Homo sapiens: one gene and its partners. The protein of the gene in region 2 purifies or fractionates together with the protein of the main gene of each other region. This does not show direct contact. Each region holds a gene or a part of one and is shown on either strand. Other genes may lie near its edges. The genes, in order: NAA50, ARL6IP6, PMVK and YKT6.

The links.
Region 1: the proteins of ARL6IP6 (region 2) and NAA50 purify together in Homo sapiens (affinity purification with mass spectrometry; 3 studies listed by BioGRID and IntAct, with this or other methods). This does not show direct contact.
Region 3: the proteins of ARL6IP6 (region 2) and PMVK purify together in Homo sapiens (affinity purification with mass spectrometry; 3 studies listed by BioGRID and IntAct, with this or other methods). This does not show direct contact.
Region 4: the proteins of ARL6IP6 (region 2) and YKT6 purify together in Homo sapiens (affinity purification with mass spectrometry; 3 studies listed by BioGRID and IntAct, with this or other methods). This does not show direct contact.

The regions. Positions count from the first base shown.
Region 1 is NC_000003.12:113,722,231-113,729,268, forward strand, and holds part of NAA50 (N-alpha-acetyltransferase 50), read right to left. Parts: intron 1,866-7,038; coding exon 1,729-1,865; intron 1,312-1,728; coding exon 1,192-1,311; intron 743-1,191; coding exon 676-742; intron 1-675. UniProt on the Homo sapiens protein: N-alpha-acetyltransferase that acetylates the N-terminus of proteins that retain their initiating methionine. Has a broad substrate specificity: able to acetylate the initiator methionine of most peptides, except for those with a proline in second position.
Region 2 is NC_000002.12:152,756,606-152,762,920, reverse strand, and holds the end of ARL6IP6 (ADP-ribosylation factor-like protein 6-interacting protein 6), read right to left. Parts: intron 3,175-6,315; coding exon 3,081-3,174; 3' UTR 525-3,080; downstream 1-524.
Region 3 is NC_000001.11:154,933,720-154,940,840, reverse strand, and holds the start of PMVK (phosphomevalonate kinase), read left to right. Parts: upstream 1-4,121; 5' UTR 4,122-4,155; coding exon 4,156-4,250; exon of another isoform or gene 4,251-4,393; coding exon of another isoform or gene 4,394-4,446; intron 4,447-7,121. UniProt on the Homo sapiens protein: Catalyzes the reversible ATP-dependent phosphorylation of mevalonate 5-phosphate to produce mevalonate diphosphate and ADP, a key step in the mevalonic acid mediated biosynthesis of isopentenyl diphosphate and other polyisoprenoid metabolites.
Region 4 is NC_000007.14:44,210,976-44,214,830, reverse strand, and holds the end of YKT6 (synaptobrevin homolog YKT6), read right to left. Parts: intron 3,809-3,855; coding exon 3,707-3,808; intron 3,278-3,706; coding exon of another isoform or gene 3,263-3,277; exon of another isoform or gene 3,223-3,262; intron 2,585-3,222; coding exon 2,549-2,584; 3' UTR 537-2,548; downstream 1-536. UniProt on the Homo sapiens protein: Vesicular soluble NSF attachment protein receptor (v-SNARE) mediating vesicle docking and fusion to a specific acceptor cellular compartment. Functions in endoplasmic reticulum to Golgi transport; as part of a SNARE complex composed of GOSR1, GOSR2 and STX5.

The DNA of each region.
Region 1 (7,038 bases), on a different chromosome or scaffold from region 2:
TATTAAAAGGCCCTATTAACACACAGAAAAAAAATGATGAAAAATAAAAAACTAGGGTCTCAAAGCTTGAAGATATATCTTCCTTCTGATTGATAAAATACATGGTATGTTTTAAAAATTAAAAACGCAAGCTTTCTCAATTACTCCCAAAATAACACTGTATAATTCAATCTCTCACATGGCCAAACTAAATTATGAACATCCATGACTGTGATCTTAGTCATAACTCTTTATCTACAGCCTCTTGAGATTCAAGTACAATCTCAGCTAGGTAATCTCTGATTTTGATTATTAAACTCTACTACAAATGATCTACTACAATGTTCAAAGCTATCAACATAGCCTTGAACAAAACACACAAGGTTTTGCATGAGAAAAGTAGTATTAATAGTCTTGAATTCTGAAGGCCTGAGTTTTAATCCTGATTTCATCCCTGTGACTTTGGTGCTCTCATCCTAATATAATAAAGCAATGTGTTCTATCTCAGGTTCCTAATCTACTATTATTAATAAAACAAAACTAAACAAAACTAACAACTACTCGAATACTTTGTAACAACTACTTCCACAGTGTTTCCAAAGGCACAATAAGTGACCAGATTTTAAAGTTTCTAGTAAAGATTTCTCCTGCCAATTAAACCCCTTTGATAAGAACATTAAATATTATTTTACTTACAGATAAATGTTGTCAAAAGTACCATCTTTTTCACAGATGTTTAAGACATGATTTAACATTTTAGTTCCTGTTAATAAAATAAATAACAAACACGTGACTTCATAAATCAACCTTTAAATTATGTATCTATCCACTTGCCATCTGAACTACTTATTGAGTCCTAAAAGAATTTATGAGGTATACACTAGATATCCTTATTTTCCAAAGTTGTGTTCTCTCTCTACAATAGCTACGTATGTTTAAAACTGTTAGCAGAAGACTAACCTTTTTAAACAAGCACTTCCGGGTAGAAGAAAAACAGAAAAAGCAGAAGGGGACGTAAACAGCAAATCTATGTAGGGCTTCCAATAGAATTATGTTAATAAACACTAGTTATTTTTCACCATATTTTACATAATTCAGTAACCCTTTCTCAGTATTCCTTAAAAAGACCCAAATTAACTTACTAGGTCAGACACATTAACAAATAATATGTTTATGCTTCTCTGAAGAAGTAAAAAAACCACAATTTTTTACCTATTCCTAGCCTTCGGTAAGGTGCCAGACATCCTAGTGTCATGATGTAAAGTCTCTTCTGATTCTGTGAATGATCCACCCTACAGCATACTGCACCTACAGCAATATCATTGAAATAGGCTGCCAAGGAAAACATAAAGATATAATGTTGAACAGACAGAATAACACATTTAATCTTTTTCCCTTTTAAAGGACTACACTGTTCCTATCAACATTAAATTTCATCAACTATTTCATGAATATCAATGATCTCAAAGCTCTTATGCCATCTTAGGAAGTTTAAGCCTCCTCTAGAGTATAGCTTAAAGTGAAAACACACAGGTATACACTAAGAACACTAAGCATTTCTTTTTAAAATTCAACTGTTTTATTCAACTGATTTCTCTGAGATTTTTCTCACAACCTAGACCACTCCCATTTCCTCACTTATAAAATAAACAAACTAAATTAGTTAACTTCTTCTGCTCTATAAAAAACTAGGGTTCAAGAACAAAAAGAAAGAAAAGAAGGGAGGACAAAAAAAAAACTATATTATACCAAGTTTTGCTAGCTCGCCAACCTCCAGCACATCCTTGTAGAACTTGTCATTGTAGCTGACTGGAAAGATGACCTGATTCAATCTTTTCAACTGTTTAATATTGTGTGGTGTCACATCTCCCAGCTCGATCCGGCTACTGGAACAAATCAAAATGTACTCAATAAAACATAATTAGCCCCATTTGTTAATATGAACATATGAAAGGGGTACCAAGTCTTTTTTACATGATTGATAAATCCAACTCTTTCAGAGTTGATTTATAAGCAAATTATCATTTATAAGCAAATTTTGACAGTCATTCAATACAAATTCTACTCATAGCTTTCATATAATTACATACATTCAGGGACAAATATGGTACACAACGACTACTACAAAGGCCAGAATAACATTCTGCAAGTGTCAAAATTTTCCTTGTAGTTCATAGTTCAGAAAAATTTAGATACACCTATTTCTGGTAAAATTACAGTTCCTTTGCCCAAGTATCTTATTACTTCTAGTAATTTATTCTAAGAAAACAATGGAGGTATGCAATACCATGCACATTCTATTCATGAAAACCGTGGTCTATGAACTACCTACATCAGAGTCACAGAGGTGATATGCAAAATTCACATTCCTGGATACACATACCCCATTTTCAGAACCAGAGTTGCTGGAAACGAAACAAAGGAATCCACCATCTTGAAAATCACCCCAGGATGAAAACTATCCATTAAGAAAGCAACAGGAGTGATATGGTTTGGCTGTGTCCCCATCCAAATTTCATCTTGTAGTTCCCATAATTCCCATGTTGTGAGAGGGACCCGGCGAATCATGGGGGCGGTTGCCCTCATGCTGTTCTCGTGATAGTGAGTTCTCACAAGATCTGATGGTTTTATAAGGAGGCTTTCCTTCACTTCGCTCTCATTTCTCCTTCCTGCCACCATGTGAAGAATGATGTGTTTGCTTCCCCTTCCACCATGTTTATAGGTTTCCTGAGACCTCCCTATCCCTGCGCAACTGTGAGTCAATTAAACCTCTTTCCTTTATAAATTACCCAGTCTCGGGTATGTCTTTATTAGCAGCATGAGAAAGGACTAATAAAAGGAGCATTCCTAAGAAACCACTTGTAATCAAAACAATTGGGTCCATGGAAAAGATTAAAGCGAAAAATTTTCAGTTCCAATTTCTAACAAAGTATCAAAGGTATTCTGCCTGCAGAGCTGTAAACAAAGAATTTTTAATAGCTGAAGTGAACTTCAATACTGTTAAAGGTGGATCAAATGTGATAAGGCAAACCTGACAGCATTCTACAATTTTTTTGCTCCATCCGTATTATTTGCCCAAAAAGATGTTGTAGCATATTGTGTTTTGTAGAGAAAAAGCACATTTCAACTATATTTAACAACGGACTTTTGTTAACATATACAAAAACATGCTTGAAAGGATTTTAATTTGTAGTAGAAATTGTAATTTTAAAAACTGTATTTTGAAATGTTAAAATTTAGATTAAAATGCAAAAAAACAAAAACAGAAACAAAAAAAAACAGCTGGGCATGAAGGCCTGTAATCCCAGCACTTTGGGAGACCGGGGTGAGAGGATCCTTTGAGCCCTGGAGTTCAAGACCAACCTGGGCATATAGCAAAACTTTGTAAGAAATTTTTTTAAAAAAACTTAACCAGGTGTGGTGGCGTGCACCTATGGTCCCAGCTACTTAGAAGGCTGAAGTGAGAGGACTGCTTGAGCCTGGAAGGTCGAGGCTGCAGTAAGCTATGATTGTGTACCATTGCATTCCAGCCTGGGTGACAGACTGTCTCAAAAACAAAACAAAAAACAGCAATAATTACAGATAAAAAAAGAAATTTCTAAATTTGATTTATCTGGAGAGGAATATGATGTAATATTTTATCTTATAGTACAAAGTTCTCTAAGATGTATTACTCTATAATGCCCAGTTTGGAGAACATTCTACTTGGTAAGGAGTTAGAGGCAAAAACAAGAGACTTTTACCCCCTATTTAAGTAGTCTGTATGAAGAACACAAAAGACAGCATAAAGCATCGTTTCTGTCATACTTAGCAGTTTTGAAAGGCTTAGCTCATTTGGAACTTTATCCTTCCTGCCTTGATTATTTTTTATACCACTAATCTGTATTATTTGTTGCAACCAATGATCTTTTCATGTCTTGTATGTCTTCCTAAAATCTGAACATAGTTTCTTAGCAACCACACAGATTAAATAAACAAACATGTTAGTAAAAGGGTAAGAGATTTATATATTTAAAAAACCCCTCAGCACCATAGGAAGTTTAAAAAAGTAAAAATAAAAAAATAGACATTTTCTTGTTATAGTCTCTTCCAACTTCTAGTCACTTAAGTATAGTCTTTTCTCATCCCAAGTATTTGACAACTATAATGAATTCCCTGTATGAAATTCATGTTTTCTTTAAGTAGATTACATCTCATTCACAGAACTCCCCCTCTTCATAACACTTTTCTGACTAAAATCTACTGGGCTCACTTTCCCCACTATCTACCATTCACATAAAAAAAAAAAAAAATTGGGAGGCCAAGGTGGGCAGATCATAAGGTCAAGAGTTTGAGACCAGCCTGGCCAATATGGTGAAACTCTGTCTCTACTAAAAATACAAAAATTAGCCCGGTGTGGTGGCACGTGCCTGTAGTCACAGCTACCCGGGAGGCTGAGGCAGAAGAATCACTGGAACCCAGGAGGCAGAGGTTGCAGTGAGCCAAGATCGCACCACTGTACTCCAGCCTGGGCGAGAGAGCAAGACTCCGCCTCAAAAAAAAAAAAAAGAAAGAAAGAAAGAAAAATCTGTGGATACTGTTATCCTGTAAACTATAGAATCCTTTATTTTTCTTTTTTTGAGACAGGGTTGCTCTGTTGCCCAGGCATAATTACAGGTCACAGCAGCCTCCGCTTCTCAGGCTCAAGTGATCTTCCCACCTCAGCCTAACGAGTAGCTGAGGAAGGCACATGCCACCACGCCCAGCTGATTTTTGAATTTTTTGTAGAGACAGGGTTTCACCATGTTGCCCAGGCTGGTCTACAGTTCCTGAGCTCAAGTGATCCGCCCACCTTGGCCTACCAAAGTGCTGGGCCTACAGGCGTGAGCCACTGTGCCTGGCCAAAATATAGGATCCTTTAAAAATGCAGTAGCTGACAGGGATCACATCTTACCTACACTGTCTCCTGTTTAACTTACCATAGTGCCACAAGTTGGGTGTAGTAATTTTTTTATATACAGTTTGTATTAATTTAGAGCATCTCATTTAAAAAAAAGTCTTAGTATTTAAAAAGTGATTTAAAATTACATTATGAAGTTGAAGTATCAACAATAATAGTAACTTAAGAACCTACAAAGTCAAGCTTCTAAAGTATAAATGAAAGAACTTGAGGTTTTTAAAACTTTAGGAATCATTTGTAGGTAGTAACTAGGCTTCAAGCATACTTACAGTTTTCAAAGAATAATACCAGGTATTTCTTGACTTCATACAAGAAGAAAAAGTGGTTATAGTGCACTGTGCTACAATGAGTCTAATAAAAGTTAACTACTAAAAAAAGTTTCCATTAGGGTGGCCAGATAAAGCCTAAATAGAGAAAACAATATTGAACCATTAGGAAATAGGCAGCTTAATCTTCCCCTAACTAATTAAAAAAATACATGCCTTTTTTTTTTTTAAAGCACACCATAGAAATGACGTAGAAAGGGAAAATATCCTGCAATAATATGGCCAGAAATAAGTTTGCTGATAGTCTTCCAATATTTTTCTATGCGCGTTATATATATGTATATACACGCTTTAAACAAATTTGAGATTTAAGTATTGTTTGGTAGCTGTTGGAAAAATTAAGCTGTTTTTGAGAAATTAATTTGATTTTTGCAAGAAACAAATATGCTAGAAAAATTTCAAAATGTTCACTTAATGTAACCTTGTCAGCAAAACTGAGCTTCAAATATAGTTTAACTCTCATTAACATGATATGTCTGACTGAAATGGAATACTTCTGTAATCCTGATCACTTAGCTCCAAATTATTTTAAGACATGGATTTTCTAAATATATCAAAGTACTATAATCAACTTGTAAATATAAGTTAGCAAGGAACACGGAGTTAAAAAAAAAAAAAGGCATAAGCATAAGGGATATGTAGACATGTCAAGAAAATAACATTACTTGAATGTAAACAACCAAAAAGGTTTTAGTTAGAATAACCTATAAAAAATTAAGTTAAAAGTCCAAATTCTCTATTAAAAAACTAACCTAATGGAGATTTAAAAAATTCTGTCAATCTAAATTTTTCTAAAGTTCTTATGAACATAATAGAGTTGCCTAAAGCATAAATCAATTATATTTCAATAAATATTTGAGTATCTATGTGTTATGCATCTGGAATGCAAAGGTGTTTACATCTGGTAGGAAAGACAGGTATATACAATGTGCTACTAACAGTGTATGTACATATAGTACAAAAATAATACTAGAATGAAGGTGACAATGGGAAACATTTTGAAGAACGACTAGCTTATCCTGTGGAAGGGCAAGAGATGCAGTCTAATAAAACATGAACAAAACAGCAGTGATGTAGTCCGAAAATCAGTCAGTTTGATATGGCTAAAACATCAAGTATGCTTGTGTATAAATGCGGAAGCTGAAAAAGAACCAATTTTATGACGGCCTCGTATATGGACGCATTTGGTTATCTTCTCTATAATTATTCTCTTGGTGATCTCATTCAATCTTGTAGTTGTGTGGCTTTAATGCTGCCAATTTCCAAATTTCTGTCTCTAGCCTATAGTTCACTCCTGAACTCTACATTCCTAGATCCAAGCAATCTCCAGCAGACACTTCAAAGTGAACATACTGCAAACAATTTCAAATCTTTGTTCCAAAATCTGCTTTGCTTGCAGTTTTTCCTGTCAATTGATGGCCTCTCCATCCTTGGCTGCAGTATATGTTAACTCCAAGTCTTTGTTCACATGGTATCTCAAAAAGGCTTACTCTTGATACACTTTTTTCCTTTTCTTTTTTTTTTTTTTTGAGACGGAGTCTCCCTCTGTTGCTCAGGCTGGAGTGTAGCGGTGCAATCTCAGCTTATTGCAACCTCCGCATCCTGGGTTCAAGCAATCCTCCTGCCTCAGCCTCCTAAACAGCTGTCATTACAAGCATGTGCCACCACTCCTAACTAATTTTTGTATTTTTAGTAGAGATGGGGTTTCACCATGTTGGCCAGGCTGGTCTTGAAATTATGGCCTCAAGTGATAGGCTCGCCCACCCTGGCCTCCCAAAGTGTTGGGATTATAGG
Region 2 (6,315 bases):
CTGATAAATGTATTTGAAGTTATAAATTACCCTTACACAGTGTTTTATCTAGGTCCTACAAATTCTGACATGTAGTATTTTCACTGTAGTTTAAGTATTTTGTTAAGTATTATTCTTCCCATTCGACAGGTAAGGAAACCGGGAAATGCTAAGATATTAAGTAACAGTTGTAGTTCAAACTCATTACGTTGTATTAACTAAAGAATCATATCTTGATAACTACAGTAATATTCTTTCTGATAACACTTAAGGTGGAACTGAATTTGGGGACATAATTTCTTGATGAAACAGCAAGATTAATAATAGTTTAATTTATTCTAAAATGTCTTTTCAAGTCCCTGAGACTAATCACTAGCCACAGGAATACTTACACCCCGTTTATCTTTCACAAGTAACTAAATAGAATGCTGTAAGCTACACATAAGGAGATGAGATCATCTGAGTCAGTTTCACAATAGAGATGGATTCCAGCTGCTAGATAAGCTCATTTTGACTTGTTTTGTTGCAAATGACAAAAGCCAATGTAAACTGCAAAGGCCAAAAGACAGAAATTTATTGACTCACGTATCAAGAATGGCAGGATTGCCACTGGGCTTCAGGGACCAGGGTAACGCCATTAGCAATATCCGTTATCAGCCTTATTCTTTCCCACTGAGCCTGGCTGAACTACAGCTGCCAGCATTTCCTGGGCTTGCATTTTCCCAGCTTCGTCACATCTTAATTTCAAGCTGAAAAATCCTGGGAAGAGACATACTTCACTGAAGTCATTTCTCTATTCTACTCATTGTAGCCAGGCAAAATGAGATTAGGATTAGCTCAGCCAGAGTTAGGTGACTATCCTTGCCTAATCATTCTGCATATAGATGATTTATATTTGGACCCTGTGTCAGACTGGAGAGAGGAGGGTCATTTCCCAAAAAAGGGGAGTAACAGTCCAGAAGAATTAGGATTCCACAAAAATATCTTACGGATACATCTCTCTCTATATTTATCTATATTAATATATATCTTGTAGGTATATATAGTCATGTTTGGCTTAATGACAAGGATATATTCTGAGAAAAGCGTCATTAGGCAATTTCATCATTGTGTGAACATCAGAGTATACTTACACAAACCTAGATGGTATAGCCTACTACACACCTAGGCTATATGGTATAGCTTATTGCTCCTAGACTATAAACCTGTACTGCATGTTACTGTACTGAATATTGCAGGCAACTGTAACACAATGGTAAATATTTGTGTATCTAAACAGAGAAAAAATAAAGTAAAAAATGCAGCAGTATAATCTTACGGGGGGATTCACTATCATAAGTACAGTTCGTTGTGACCAAAACGTTGTTATATGGCACATGACTGTCTAGGGTGTACATATCTCTATCTAGGGTCTACTGTTAATAACTTTCCTAGTCATTAGACACAAACAATCTGGAGGGAGTTACTCACATTGGTGGTGCGTGGGAATACAGAGTGGTGGAGAGAAGATAAATTGATTCTGTTACTTGTGTACATCTTTGCAATGAAAGGGCTCTTTGGAGTCAAAGGGTGAAGAGTTTAAGCGTGCAGGAAGGAAGGCAGGGAGTGAAAATAGACTGATGGCAACCACCACTCTGGTAGGAATACTTAAGCCATGGGATTGATATTTAGATACACACACACACACACACATTTCAGATAATTTAAATTGGAGCAGTATTAGTCATTTCCAACCAAAGAGTTTTGAATAGTAAAAGAAATGCGAGACTTTTAGAAACCTTGTTTAGTCGGTAACAACATTCAGTAGATAATTAAGGGAACACACTGCACAAATTCATTTCCCACTTAGCCTGAATAAGCAGTTTGACTACTTAATGGTTTCTTATTGTAAGTTTTCCTATGGCCAGGGAAAACAGCTTTGTAAGTAGTCCATCTTTCTAAAACTGAGGTAACTTTCTAAACATTAAAAGTCTTTAGTAACATAGGGGAAAAATTAAGGCTTAATTACTTAGAAAACAAAATATCACAATTACAGGAGCACATTTAATTACAAAAATTATAAAATTATATTAACTATATGTAGTTTTTAATATCTAGTATCAAAATACCTTTTCTACTTTGGTAACTAAATTTTTGAGATTAAGAACAAACTAGTTCAATCATTCTCACATACAAAAATTTCATGTTTATATTTATTAAAAACAAAATAATGCAAGTTCTGTTAAAGTAACAATATATACACCAAGATAAATATTTGGAATTGTGGAAACAGAAATAGTAAAAATTTCAAATTTTTTCTCAATATCTTAATGACTTAAATAATTTAGCTTTTTTCAGGCATTTTTTGTTAAAAATAAACTTACTTAATTTTCAACTTAGGTCAATGTGCTTTTTTGCTTTTTTTAAAGACAAAAATTAGTAAAAATGGCAGGTACTAGGTTTGCACTAGCTAAAAAAATAATGTTTACAGTTGTCTAGATGTAACAATTTTAAAAACATACAAATTCAGTATGTAGTATGAAAATACATTAAAAAAACACATAAGGAACTATGCCCCATAAAAAATATAAATGCAACTTCTATTAATTATATGAATATCAAAAATTAAATATTCTGATTTAAAAGTAGCTTCTATAAAAGTCGGAGTAGTAGGCATTATTTGCTTTCCTAAATGTATAAATAAGAAGTATTTCTAGCTCAACTAAACAGAAATATCAGTATTTCTTAGCAAAAAATGTAGTACATACATGAAAAGGCAAGCATTGTCCTGTATTCAAGTTTTTGAGTTTAAATTCCATTAAAATGTTTCCTACAACTTGAAAGAACTACACACACAAAAGTAAAAAGATGAGGTAAACATCTTATACTCTGAAGAAAGTACTTAATACTCAGATATTCCCAATTAATCTGTATCTTAATACTCAGACATTCTAAAACAATGCTTTAAAAGGTCTTCCATAATGAGGATGATTGTGATAAATATCTGAACTACATAATGAACAGCAGGTTTCTCAGTCTTCTGAGTAGACAGTGATGCTCCTTCTTGTTATTACAAAACAATCATGATTAAGTTTTGCCAACAATATCGCTCCAGTGTGGGTTTACATGAGGCACCATGCTACAGTAAGAGCAGCTACGATGCCATTCAAAATCGCCATGCTATAGCCCATGTGGAAAGAATGTCCAGTCAGTTTCCTAGAAAAAAAGAAAAACACAAATCAAAAAAGAAAAATGTAACGTGGTATAACAAAGACACCAAAAGTTTTCATCGAAAATACTTATGACCTTGGAGTGTATTTCCCAAATGTTCACATATGAATACAAAACTTAAAGAATATTGGACATCTGCAGGATAAATAGTGGATAGATCTTATTAAGTCCTGTGTCAAAACTGTACTGGTTAACAATTACAGTTGTTTCAAATCATTACTGATGAGTAATGCTGAGTTTCATCCCTATTATTTCTTTACTGTGTTTCATTGTCACTGTGTGTAGCCATAACCTAATTCTAAGGTATAAGTTTTGTTATTTTACAAACAGTTCTTTCATTAATTAGCGGTGTGTTTCCATGCTGTCTGTTCTTACTTTGATTTGACTTAAAATACATATTATTTCAAGTATTTGTTCTGTTTGCACCACTTTTAGGTTATATGAAGGAACTCCCTATGTCTTTCATAGATATTTCAGCTATCATTCTAATAGGTTACTTAATTGAAGTGGTTTTCAATGAGTTCTTAAGAATCAGCAAAGACACATCTCTTTTATGATTGCTAGGAGTGCCAACTAGTTTAATAACTCTTATGTGCATGAATATTCCCTGACATTTGTTTCCTTTATCTTGTAACAATCTTACAACAGTTTTTCCCACTAACTGTATTGCAATAATACTATTTGCTTATCCTAGTAAGAATCAGACATATTAAAAAGAAAAGAAGGTAGTATCCAACTGAGACTCTCTAGAAGGCAGAACAGAATACTCTCCTTTCTGGAGCAAAACAAATTGAGGACACACAGGAAGGTGCACTAGCAGAAGTAAAAGCCAAAAGACAAAAGCAGTAAGGGCCCTGGACTGAGACGGTCATAAATACCCATATCCTCTCCTCCTTTCCTAAGGAGTAGCCAAAGCCAGAGAAGCACTTAGCTGTGAACTAACACTTGAAGAGCACCTCATAGTGATTCCAGTCGCACAATATCTGTGGCAGAGATTGAAGAAGGTACATTCTTCAAAGAAGAGCCCTTTGCATTCATCTGAAGCTACATAGACCCTGATGCTTCCTGATGGTTCCCTGCTCTGTTCCAAGGGAGTTATTATTTACTTTCGACTCAACCTTTCTTTACCCAACTAGGGCTAGTCAAAGATGCTTCTCATGTGTTATTAAGGGTTAATCTACCTACCTATATTACCTATCTACATCGTAAAATAGGTATAATGCTTTGTCCCTTTAAAAAAGAAATTCCTCAAATATATGTTGATGACTAGTGAACAGAAACCTAAAGTTGAACAATCAGCATTATCATTCATCATAAAATATTTAGTGACGATCCAAAAAACTTTTAAATTAATACAGTTCGGTCTTCCATATCAGTGGGTTCCACATCTGCGAAATGAACCAAGCAGGTAGAATATATTTTGAAAAAAAAAATGCATCCGTACAGAACATGTATACACTTTTTTCCCTTGTCAATCCCTGAACAATAAAACAACTATTTATATAACATTTACATTGTATTAGGTATAATATTATAAATAATGTGGAGATGTTTTAAAGTATATGAGAGGATATGCTTAGGTTATATGCAAATACTAAGCCATTTTTGAATGAGACTTCAAGTATCCTCAGATGTTGATACCTGTGTGGAATCCTGGAACCAGTCCTTCACAGATAAAGGGGGATGACTGTACTCACCCAATAAAGTTAATCATCAAAAGGTTTCCAGAGTTAATTGTTCTGTTTTAGTAGTTTGTGATCCTCACAATCCCACAAAAATAGAAAAACCTTTAAAGTTCAGTTTACTAAGCCGACAACTACAATGTTGGTAGAATTGAATTTTACTGAGATGTACATGCTCAAATGTTCAGTGACTTCCTTACTAAGCAGGCAAAGCAATGCATTTTAATGGCAATGAAAAAATGCTCGGGAGTAGTGGTTCCTAGTCTTTGTCATCTCAAATGTACCATATTCCCACTGGGAACACTGTAGCAATTGTCACAGACTACTGCTAGGTAAAGGACTTAAATCTTTGAAGAATCACTTGCTTTAATTTAAAGCTTTTCAAAATATTCACCATGATTTTCCTCTTTGGAGGAAGACAGACAATCCCTGCAGGCTTTCTCTCTTGTGACTCTCATTTGTGATCTCTAAAGTCTGTTAACAAAGACTGAAGGAATTATGGTTCTCCTTTGTCAAAACTCTATAGAGGACTTATTTAAAATTGACTCAAGTAAAATGAAAATATTATCTTCAATTAATGAGTTTAATATCTTCAATAAATGATAATTAAATACAATGTCTACCTCATCCAATCTATATCTATACATGCATTTCACTTTTTTAATTAAAGCATACCAGTAAAATGCAAATGTCTAACATTTATATACAGTTCAATGCATTTTTACTGTGGTAGACTCTCATATACTCACCAACCACATAAAGATAGAGAACATTTCTGGCACTGCAAAAAGATCCCTTTTAAATATTCAACTTACCTCCTGCAGATCTTGAGGTAACTGCAATACTGAGGGCTGTCACCAAGATTAGTTTCACTTGCTCTTGAAACTACATCTACATGGCATCATACAATAAATATTTTTCTGCGTCTGCCTTCTTTTGCTCAGTACTGTCTTTGTGAGATTCATCCATGTTGTATGTAGTATTAGTTTGTTCTTTTCTACTGCAGTATATAGCAAAATGTATTTACCCATTTTACTACTGATGGGTGTTTCCAGTTTGGGGCTCCTATACATACAGGTACTATGAACACGTCTTCGGTGGGTGGTGGGAATCTGCACTTATTTCTCTTGGATAGATCCTAGGAGTAGAACTGCTGAGTTACAAGGTAGATATACATTAGGCTTTAGTAGAAAGTATGAAAAATAGTTGTACCAATTTACACTTCCACTATCAACGTATGAGTTTAAGTTGTTCCACATCACCATGAACACTTGGTATTATCAGTGTTATAAATTTTAACCATTTTAGTAGGTCTGCAGAGTATGTTGTAGTGGTTTTAATATTTATTTTTCTGATGATTAATGTACTTACTGACCATTCAGAAAGCCTCTTTTTTGATGTTTGTGTTCAAAACTTTTTCTCATTTTTTTCTATTGGTTTATAG
Region 3 (7,121 bases), on a different chromosome or scaffold from region 2:
TGGTTCCCCGATGTGGCAGGAGCTGGCGGGAAAAGATGCTAACTAGCATTCAGGTCTCAATACTGTGCTAGATGCTGTGGGGCCCCCCAATCCTTGCCCCGAGGCTAATTGGATTAGCTGCATACAAAGCAGAATTTTAATAGTACTCTCTTAATGGTGCCAGGAGCAGTCTGCCAACTGGGTGAAGAGGAAGAAAGGGGTGGCCTTTGAGTTGGATCTTGAAAGATAATAGGATTTCAGAGATGGGAGAATGGGGGAAGGTATTTCAGGCTAGGCAAAGGTGAGGCCTGAGGTAAGGGTGTTATAGCCTATAGCTAGATGGTTCACAGAGGGGGCAAATTCTGCCACTGGCAGCCTGCAGGTCTGAGGGGATGGCTACTGTAGGAAATGGGAGGGGTGCCACTAATCCTCACCATTCCCCCCACCCTCCACTTCCTCTCCAGAGCAGGGCCCCTTTGCAGGAGTTCTCACCAGCATGGGGCACTTACCTTCGCTCAGCCCCAGGGGAGGCATTCAGCAGAGGGGAGGGTCATCCATTGAGGTCATCACTGAGACTCTGTTCAAAATCAAAGGGACAGGTCATCTGGCTAGAGCAGGATAGGCAGACACCTGAAGCCACATGCTGTGGAGAGGAAAGTGCTAGATAGCTCCCTTTGGAAGGTCCATTGCCCATGGGTCAAACAGGCTGGCCATCAATGCTTGCTCATCTGGAATGACAGGACTAGTCCAGAAATAGTGGCATGAGGCCAGCAAAGGAACAGGCTGGCTGGGCGCTGTGGCTCATGCCTGTAATTCCAGCACTTTGGGAGGCTGAGATGGGAGGTTGGCTTGAGGCCAGGAGTTCGAGACCAGCCTGGGAAACATAGCAAGACCTTATCTCTACTAAAAATTAAAAAAAAAAAAAAAAGTTTAACTCAGCATGGTGGCACACACCTGTAGTCCCAGCTACTCAGCAGGCTGAAGGTGGAAGGATTGCTTGAGCCCAGGACATCAAGGCTGCAGTGAGCTTATGATCCGCCACTGCACTTCCAGCCTGGGCACAGAGTGAGACCCTGTCTCAAAAAAAGAAAAGAAACAAGCCATGGCTGTCATCTAGGTGGATCATTAACTTTTCTTTCTTTTTTTTTTTTTTTTTTGAGATGGAGTCTCGCTCTGTTGTTCAGGCTGGAGTGCAGTGGCGTGATCTCTGATCTCCGCTCACTGCAAGCTCCACCTCCTGGGTTCACGCCATTCTCCTGCCTCAGCCTCCCGAGTGTAGCTGGGACTACAGGTGCCTGCCACCACGCTTGGCTGTTTTGTTTTTTTTTTTTTGTATTTTTAGTAGAAATGGGGTTTCACCGTGTTACCCAGGATGGTCTCGATCTCCTGACCTCGTGATCTGCCCGCCTCGGCCTTCCAAAGTGCTGGGATTACAGGCATGAGCCACTGCACCGGGCCACATTTAACTTTTTTCCCCTGGGTTGTGGAAGGCAGGCAGAGCATGTTATATAATGTAACCAGTTCCACCAGCTAGTGGACTTGGGAGGGAAGTGCTACTTTGGGGAGTATTTGAGCAAGTGACCTTGGAGGGTTGGGTGGATGAGCATGTGAGTTTGCAGGTTGAGCAGCTTCTGGTGATGACAAAGCCCAGGGTGTGTCCATAGGAGCTGGCCTCTGAGGAGGAGAGGGGGGAAAAGGCTTTGAACAGCCAGGGCCAAGGGATTGAGCAGCGGGGTGTTGGATGGGCTGGCCATGACCGTGATGTCACCGAGGATGATGACAGCAACTCTGTAGAAAAGGAGACTGGGAGCCAGTGGCTGAGTCTCAGAAAATGAGAATGAGGCTGGGTGCAGTGGCTTACACTGGTAATCCCGGCACTTTTGGAGGCTGAGGCCAGAGAGGACTGCTTGAGCCCAGGAATTCCAGACTAGCCTGGCCAACATAGCAAGACCCCGTCTGCATAAAGAAACAAAAGAAAATGAAAATGAACCACCAGGATTGCTGGGCTGCCAGTACTGAGGAAAGCAGGAGGGTAGCGCAGGCAGGTGGCATGAGCCTTAGAGGAACCATAGTTTTCCAAGAGGCAGGATGAGTAATGGTGTGGAAATTAAAATGGGGAGGAAGGGAGGCCATAGACTCAAAGCGGATGCTGAGGGATGAGGGCTGGGAGACTAAAGCCTCCACTTGAGACACCAGTAAGGGACAGTGGAGTTCAGTTGAGGCATACTAGGAAGCCTAGTATGGGGGAAGTTTTTTTTTATTTTTTGAGACGGAGTCTTTTTCTGTTGTCCAGGCTGGAGCGCAGTGGTACAATCTTGGCTCACTGCAACCTCTGCCTCCCAGGTTCAAGTGTTCTCATGCCTCAGCCTCCTGAGTAGCTGGATTGCAGGTGCCCGCCACCACGTCCAGCTATCCAGCTAATTTTTGTATTTTTAGTAGAGATGGGGTTTCACCATGCTGGCCAGGCTGGTCTCGAACTCCTGCCCTCAGGTGATCCGCCTTGGCCTCCCAAAGTGCGGAGATTACAGGCGTGAGCCTGGGGGAAGTTTTCTGATCGCTCACTAGGTATTCAGGGAGCTGGATCTCAGAGTCAGAGAGGGAGGTAAGGGGCGTGCATTGGGTCAGGTGAGGAAAGAGACTCCGGGAGTAAGTTCTGACTCCTTCCATGTGACTCAGGTAAAACAGGAGATGTGGACTTTCCGTGGAGGCCCAAATACATGTTTATTGAAGATGAGCTGGAAAATCTGATTCTGTGTTGAATGACGAAGTGCTAAGAATAAATAACAACCCCTTACATCTGGATGATACTTGAGAACTTACAAAGTATTTTATTGTACCTTGTCATATATTTTCTTCATTCCTTTCTTATTATAACCCTGGGAAGTGGGCCTTATCAGTGGTAAACTCAGAGTGACTTGCTAAGTGTCCAAGCTGGGACTGAAAATCCACTCTGTGCTGCCTTCTAGGGCGTTGATGAGTGCAGTGTTTTCTGGGTTGCTGAAAAAAAACAAAAAAAACCCCAAAAAACAAAAAACCACCTCCTTAAGTCTGTTCTTTTTGCATCTGACCACTCTCCTGTGCCTCTTTTCAACATTCAGGAAATTAATGGTTTCTCCCTAAGTCTCCACACTACACTTTTTCTCTAGTGGAGGCAGTAATGAGTTGCAGGCTCTGTTCTGACATGCTCAGAAAAATGCAGGACGGCAAGTCATAGCCAAAAACAACTCGACGTACTCAGCTGGGGCAACCCGTCACCTACTGCGGGAAGAGGCAGAACCGGGGATGCAGGGAAAGGACAGATTATTCTTATCCTGCCTCTCAAACTTCTGGCTGGGAGCCAGACTTCGGATGAAACCAGGCAATCTCATCTAGGGATTCAACGCTCCCTTACTATTGATGTCACCCACGCCGTTTGCTTCCGAAAACCTTTGGGCCGGAGGCTGCGGCTAGAAAAGCAATCAAAGGTTTCTCGCCGGGCTTAAAGGGCCACATCTTAGTGACGTCTCGGGTTATAAAATCTGCTTGACAATGAAATATCGTGTGCGCGATTCTGCTCCTCCCCCGACATGACGTGGCCAGACACGCCGCTCGCGTCAGGGCTGCCTTACGCCCCCAGGAAGACCCATTCCCACTCTGGGGCGCGCGCAGATTTGCTGTGGCACATGTACTATAACGCACAGGCAAAAGGGCAGTTTCCAAAACGTCTCCAACGTGATCTCACTCCAGAGATTTTTTTTCCTAAAGTTTTAGGGCTGCGCGGAAGGGAACATGGGGTTCACCTCAGGAAATTTCAGACGTCACCCCCCTCGGAGGAAGGTAGTCGCGTCCGGTTCCTCCCCGGGTGTCAGTTAAGCAGGCCAGGCTGTGAGCGAAGGTTCTGGGCGGGGCTGGACTGTTCTAAGTGAGTTCGGGTGGGGGAGCTTCACGAGGGGAGGCTGCTCTGTGAAGGAACCGCCTTTCTCTCCGCGTGTCTCACCCTTTTCTCCCCATATCTGTTTGGACATGAGCTGAGGGCACGGTCGCGGGCGGTCAGCCCTGTTCGCAGCTACGGCGAGGAGGGGCGCGATTGTTCCTTGTTGCCGCTCCGCTTAGTGGCCGCGTCCATTCCGCGCGGTGTCCCGATTTTAGGGGTAGGGAGAAGTGTCAGCTTCAGGCATCGCGAGGCGTGGCGGCCCCATGGCCCCGCTGGGAGGCGCCCCGCGGCTGGTACTGCTGTTCAGCGGCAAGAGGAAATCCGGGAAGGACTTCGTGACCGAGGCGCTGCAGAGCAGGTGTCCGTGAGGCGGGAAAGGTGGAAGGGGGAGCTCTCCGCATCACGTGACACGAGGAGTGCTTTTGGGTGTCACGGAGTGAGCTTTGGAGTACGGGTCGTCCGTTTGCAAGGCAGGAGGAGCACTGGGCTGGGGAAGGTGGAATGCCACCATTACATAAAACAGTAGTCTACACAGGCGAGCCTCAAAGAAGCAGGTGACCACCTCTCCAAAGACCTTCAGCTGCAGGTCTCTCTGAGAAGCATTAATAATGGTTCCTACGAAGGCACTTTCTATATACCAGGCGTTGGATACCAGCCTGGGCAACATGGCGAGACCCCGCCTCTACGAAAAATCCAAAAAGTAGCTGGGCGTGGTGACGCGTGCCTGTGGTCCCAGCTATTCAGGAGCCTGAGGTAGAAGAATCGCTTGAGCCCGGGAGGCGGAGGTTGCAGTGAGGCGAGATTGGCCACTGCACTCCAGCCTGGGCGACAGAGCGAGACCCTGTCTTAAAAAAACAAAACAAAAAACCCTCTTCACCTCTTTGTTAGGTACTGTGTGCCATTATTAGCATCTCCATTTCACAGGTGAAGAAACTGAGGCTCTTAAAAAGTTAAACAGGCCGGGTGTGGTGGTCATGTCTGTCACCCCAGCACTTTGGGAGACAGAGGTGCGAGGATGGCTTGAGAGCCCAGTAGTGGAGACCAGCCTGGGCAACACAGTAAGACCCTAGTCTCTACAAAAAAATGGAAAAGTTAGCCTAGTGCGATGGCGAGCACCTCTAGTCCAAGCTACTCAGGAGGCTGAGGTGGGAGGATCGCTTGAACCTGGGGGCTACAGTGAATTGTAATCATGCTACTGTCCTCCAGTCCTTGCAGCAGAGCCTGAGACCCTGTCTCGAAGTAAAATAAAATAAAATAACATACGAAGTTAACAACAAAAAACCCTTGCTGGTCACAAAGTAAGTGGCAAATCCAGGATTCAAATTCAGCTTTGTGGTTCATGATGGGCATCTCAGCAATTAATATATAATTGAAACAAAAAGAAAAAAAACCCAAACAAATTCAACTTTATCTTGCGCCAAGGACTGGTTTCTTTCTGTTTTATCTGGCTGCCTCCCCAAATAATAATACCTTTTGCACAGTGTTTTCTGTCAAAGCAAGATCTTCTGTGCAGGAGCATTTTGCTGAGACCTGGGCTAGGAGAGCAGAGGTTGGGGAGAAAGTGGGGCTCCTCTCCTCTTGAAGGCCAGTGTGGTGGGGGTACCAGGAAGCTGCTTTTGGGTACCACGGGGGTTCTATGAAGGTGTGGGAGAGCCCAGAGCAGAGGTCACCACCTGAATTTTTCATCACTAAGTATCTCACCACCTTTTCCTAAGTTGCATTTCTCCTCACCTCCAAACCCTGACGTCAAATAGTGGTCCGAAGCACAGGCTCTGGAATTAGACTGCTGGGATGCAAACCCTGGCTCACTGTTGATTAGTGTGTGATCTTGTACACATCTGTCATTCACTCTGTGCCTCATGTTTTTTTTTTTTTTTTTTTTTTTTTTTTGAGACGGAGTCTTGCTCTGTCACCCAGGCTGGAGCGCACCCAGGTTGCGGCTCACCGCAACCTCTGTCTCCTGGGTTCAAGCGATTTTCCTGTCTCAGCCTCCCGAGTAGCTGGGATTACAGGTGTGTGCCACCATGCCCAGCTAACTTTTGTATTTTTAGTAGAGACAGGTTTCACCATGTTGGCCAGGCTGGTCTGGAACTCCTGACCTCAGGTGATCTGCCTGCCTCGGCCTCCCAGAGTGCTGGGATTACAGACGTGAACCACCACCGCACCTGGCCTGCGTCTCAGTTTTGTCATCTGTAAAATGGGGATGATAATAGGGTGGTTGTGGGGATTAAATGAGATAATGTGTGTGAAGGGCTTAGAATAATTATTGGCACCTAGCAGAGGTGCAGGAACTAAATGTTGGCTATATTTATTTTACCAATCTTGGCTTCACTACTTGCAGTGTTGCTTTGGGGGAGTCAATCCTCCTTTCACAACCTCAGCTTCCTCATCTGAAACATGAAAATAAGAACACTTACAGCCAGGGCAACATAGTGAGACCCCCTCTCTACAAAAGATAAAAAAAATTAGCTGGGTATGGTGGTGCATGCCAGTAATCCCAGATACTCAGGAGGCTGAGGTGCGAGGATTGCCTGAGCCCAGGAGTTCAAGATTGTAGTGAGCTGTGATCATACCACTGCACTCTAGCCTGGGTGACAGCAAGACCCTGACTCTTAAAAAACCAAACCAAAACAAAACAAAGAACACTTATCGTTGGGCGCAGTGGCTCACGCCTGTAATCCTAGCACTTTGAGAGGCCGAGAAGGGTGGATCACTTGAGCTCAGGAGTTCGAGACCAGCCTGACCAACATGGTAAAACCCTTCTCTACTAAAAATACAAAAATTAGTGGGACGTGGTGGCGCCGGCCTGTAGTCCCAGTTACTTGGGAGGCTGAGGCAGGAGAATAGCTTAAACCCAGGAGGTGCAGGTTGCAGTGACCTGAGATTGCACCACTGCATTCCAGCCTGGGCTACAGAGTGAGACTCAGTCTCAAAAACAGCACTTATCTTCCTGTGCGTTAAGTGTATTGTGAGCATCTCAAGGCTAGGACAGGAAGCATGTATCATTCACATTTGTATCACCTAGATCCAAATATGGTACCCAATAAATGGTTGGTTAAGCCAGGAGGCAGAGGTTGTGGTGAGACGAGATGGTGCCACTGTACTCCAGCCTGGACGACAGAGTGAGACTCTGTCTCAAAAAAGAGAAAAAAAGAAGGGCCGTGTGCGGTGGCTCACGTCTGTAATCCCAGCACTTTGCGAGGCTGAGGCGGGCGGATCACGAGATCAG
Region 4 (3,855 bases), on a different chromosome or scaffold from region 2:
AAAGCAGGGGTCAGCTTTGGCTCCTCCAGGAACCAGGAAGCTTCCAGGTACCCTGTGGAGCCCCCTCTGCTCCTGAAAAGTTGCCACCTGTGCTTGGTGGGATGCCAGGTGGTCTCAGATTGACCCTGGGGTCAGCGGTGAGGGACAGGAAGCCTACAGCGGGATCAGGATGGGGATGGGGCCTCCTGTCCCATGGCTCTGCAGCTATGAGGCAGCTTTCCTAGGGTGGGTCTCCTGGCTGCAGCTAAGACCAGGCAACAGGATTCAGCAATGACAGGGCTTCTTCTACTCCAGGGCTCCCTCACCTGGTTAACAGCAAAAAAGAAAATACAGTTCCTGCTAGCAAGGTCTATAGAAAGGAGGTGAAGGAGTCAGGCCTGCAGCTACCTCTCCTGGACAGGAGCTGGTCAGGATAACTTGGACCCTTGCATGCGGCAGGCCCACAGGCACACAGCATGAGGCCACTCTCTCCCCCGGGGGAAGGGCTTGGTGAAGAAAGGATTCCCCTGAAGCACAAAGAAAGCACAGGACCACTGTGAAATTTCAAGACAACTTTATCCAGACAGGCGCCTCTCAAATAGAACACAGGGAAGTTAGGCAGCAGTTACTAAAATACAGTCTCGCCAAATGATTTACAACAGAACACAACAGGAGCAGGGGATCTGTGGGTGGGGCTGGGCTGGGCCCTCTATCTCACAGGGCCTGAGTCAAGCCAGCCCGCCCTGCAAGGCAGGGGCTGACCTGCAAGCGGAGATCTCACTTCCTCTTACCCCAAATTCATACCTCCATTTTCCCCGCCCCCATCTCTCCCCAGGGTCCTCAAGTGGGAAAGGGAGAGGTAGCATCCCTCGGATCCAGGCCCACTCCACTCCGTCTCCGGCACCAGTGGGCAGGCTGAGTCTGGGCCTCAAGGGGCCCTGGGCTTAGGGTATCTATGGCAGTAGGAAAATGACATGGACAGGCTCTTCAGGGGTAGGCTAAAGTCCTCTGGCCAGCAGTACCCAGAGAAAATGGGCAGCAGCAGGTAAACCAGCCAGGAGGTGGAGTCCTCTGAACCCACAGCAGACCCCACCCTCCTGCCCAGCCCCTGCCCACATTGGGGGTCAGGACCACTGAGACTCTGGTCAGGACAGTGGGTGCTCTCAGCAGTGTGGCAAGCTCAGAGCAGAGCTCCCAAGGACCATACCACACTGGTTCAAAACCCATAGGTGACACCATCCCAGCAGAAGCTTCCATGGGTGCTGGATCCCAGGGCTGCATCCTGAGCACAGGTGGGCAGACTGGAACATAACACTAGGACCCAAGGGATCCAGAACATTTTAGGCCCATCTCCTGGGCTGCTCCAGCCTGTTGCCATGACTTGGGCAGTGAGTGGGCCTCCTGCCAGGTGGCAGGGCACAGCTTAGACCAAACCCTTGGCCTCCCCCCTCTGCAGCTACCTCTGACCAAGAAGGAACTAGCAAGCCTATGCTGGCAAGACCATAGGTGGGGTGCTGGGAATCCTCGGGGCCGGCTGGCACCCACTCCTGGTGCTCAAGGGAGAGACCCACTTGTTCAGATGCATAGGCCTCAGGCGGTTCAAGGCAGTCTTAGAGCCACAGAGTCAAATAAAAATCAATTTTGAGAGACCACAGCACCTGCTGCTTTGATCGTGATGTTCAAGGCAAGTTGCAAGTCAAGGCAAGTGTCCCAGAGGCCCTGGGCAGCTGAGTGCACCTGTGTTTGATCTTCCCCTGATGATGGACACTCCCAGCTGACCATCCAAACACCAGGAAAACATCCCCCTTTCCTGGGCTCAGTTCCTAGTCTACTTGCTGGTACGAACCCAACCCACACACTCCCCGCCCACAATGCAGCTCCTTCCAAATCCTCCCACAAGCCACCTTTGTGGGACTTGGAAGCTGCTTAGGATGGGCCCTGCCCTCTGCGGGAAGCCAATCCTAGCAGAAAGGTAAGCTAAACAACAGTCTCAGAATCTGAGACCCAGTGACTGTTCCCCCCGCCCCAGGCCTTGGGCCTGAAGTGGGGGCCTGCCTGTGGCCTCTGTGGTGGGCTCACTCCCACCCCCAACAGTGGCCCCAGGAGAGGCTTTCCCAAGAGTCTTCAAACTCCACCCACCCCAGCCCTAGCATCAGGGACTCCCCACCCCCCACTGGAGTGTTAATATCATTAATGTACAAATAAGATCCAAAGATATACCAAAGATCGAGAAACAGCTGGCTCCGACCTCCCTCCCACAGAGCCTTCCCAGGGTTAGCTGAAAAAGAGCCCTTTGGCATCTACAGAAGCCAGTCGGAGTTTATGGTTTCATTTGCCCAAAAATACACCTTTGGGGACCTCAAATTCTTTCCAAGAATCACTACCACACATATGAATTTGAACATTCGCCACCCTTCCACCATCCATTTCTCGCAGGAACTTCAAAATAAAAATGGCCAGTCTGCCCCCACTCTGGCTCCTCGTCTATGGCTGTCTCTTCTTTTCCAGGGGCTGCAGTTCTGATGTGAATGATGGTGCCATTCCAGCATTGGGCCTCTGGCAGGCTGCATCACATGATGGCACAGCATGAGTTTTGTTTCCGGGCCTTGGAAAAAAACAAAGAGGAGCTGAGAAGGAGGACTGACGAAGTAAGGGAAGCCCCAATCCTGGCAGGCGTGGCAGAGGGAGCTCCACAGGACACAGCCAGGCAGAGAAACTAGCACTAGAACAGGGTGGGGGTGGAGGCCTTGAGGGAAGCTGTCCACAAGCAATTCCCATCACCAAGCACAAGGCGGGCCCCGGCTTCCAAAACTAGTCTGGGATCCTTTTTCCTTTCTTTTCTCACACCCCATTAATGCTATCAAAAAGTGAGTAAAATTCCTACAGTTAGGCCAGGTACAAACAAAGGACCAATAATACAAATGGGATTGGCAGAATATCTTAACTTTGCCCCACTCCTGTCTTCACACAATGCTATCTGACCACCACGGTGGTGTTTCTTCCTAGAAGATGGTCCTGAGGACAACAGATGTGGTTCCCACTTGGGATGTGGTTTGTGGGGACCACTGTTGCCACCTTCTCTCTTGCTTTCTGGTCACAGACTATCTTCCTAATCCCACCTAGCCATCTCCCTCCAATGTGCACATGAAAGCAAATGTGTGTGGACAGACCAAGTAAATTTGTCCCTATGACTATCCAACCATGGGCCAACAGTGCCATCTCCACATAGGAAGACATGAGCACTGACCTGAGAGAAAGCGGCAGTCAGCAGCACCCATCCTTGTCAATTAAATATTTTCTGTCAAAGGGAAATTAAAAGCTTAAGAACCTCTTCAGGAAGGCTGAATTGCTTGCATCTTAAAGACTTATGTCTACTCAGCAGAAAGAGGAATAAGATTCAACAGTAAATCTCTGGTGATCAGAACTTGAACCAGCCTTCCTGGACTGGGAGTAGGAGTTCAGAAATCAGCCAGAGCAGCAGAGGGCAGAGCAGAGGCAGGAGTGGAACAAGGCCTCGGCCCGCATCGACTCCAACGGCGCCCAAGTGAACTGCCTCCAACCACCTGGGCCTGAGGCGCTCACCTTAGGCTCTTGCCGCACAAGGAATCATCCACCATGATTCAACAGTCTAAGAAAGACCCGTTCATAGTGGAGAGTGCCAGAAGCAGCAAGCTGCGACTGCTCTCTAGAGAGAACACCCAGGAGGCAGCAGGTGCTGGGTACTCACAGTTTTATAGAAGGCTTTAGACTGTGTTCCCAGCACCTCGGATTTGGACACCAAGTCATCTAGCTTCTCACCTCGCTCTAACAGAGACTCCATGGTGTTGTGCTGGACAAAAAAGAAAAGAGAATCCAGCTCTGTTCAGTACGTGCCCT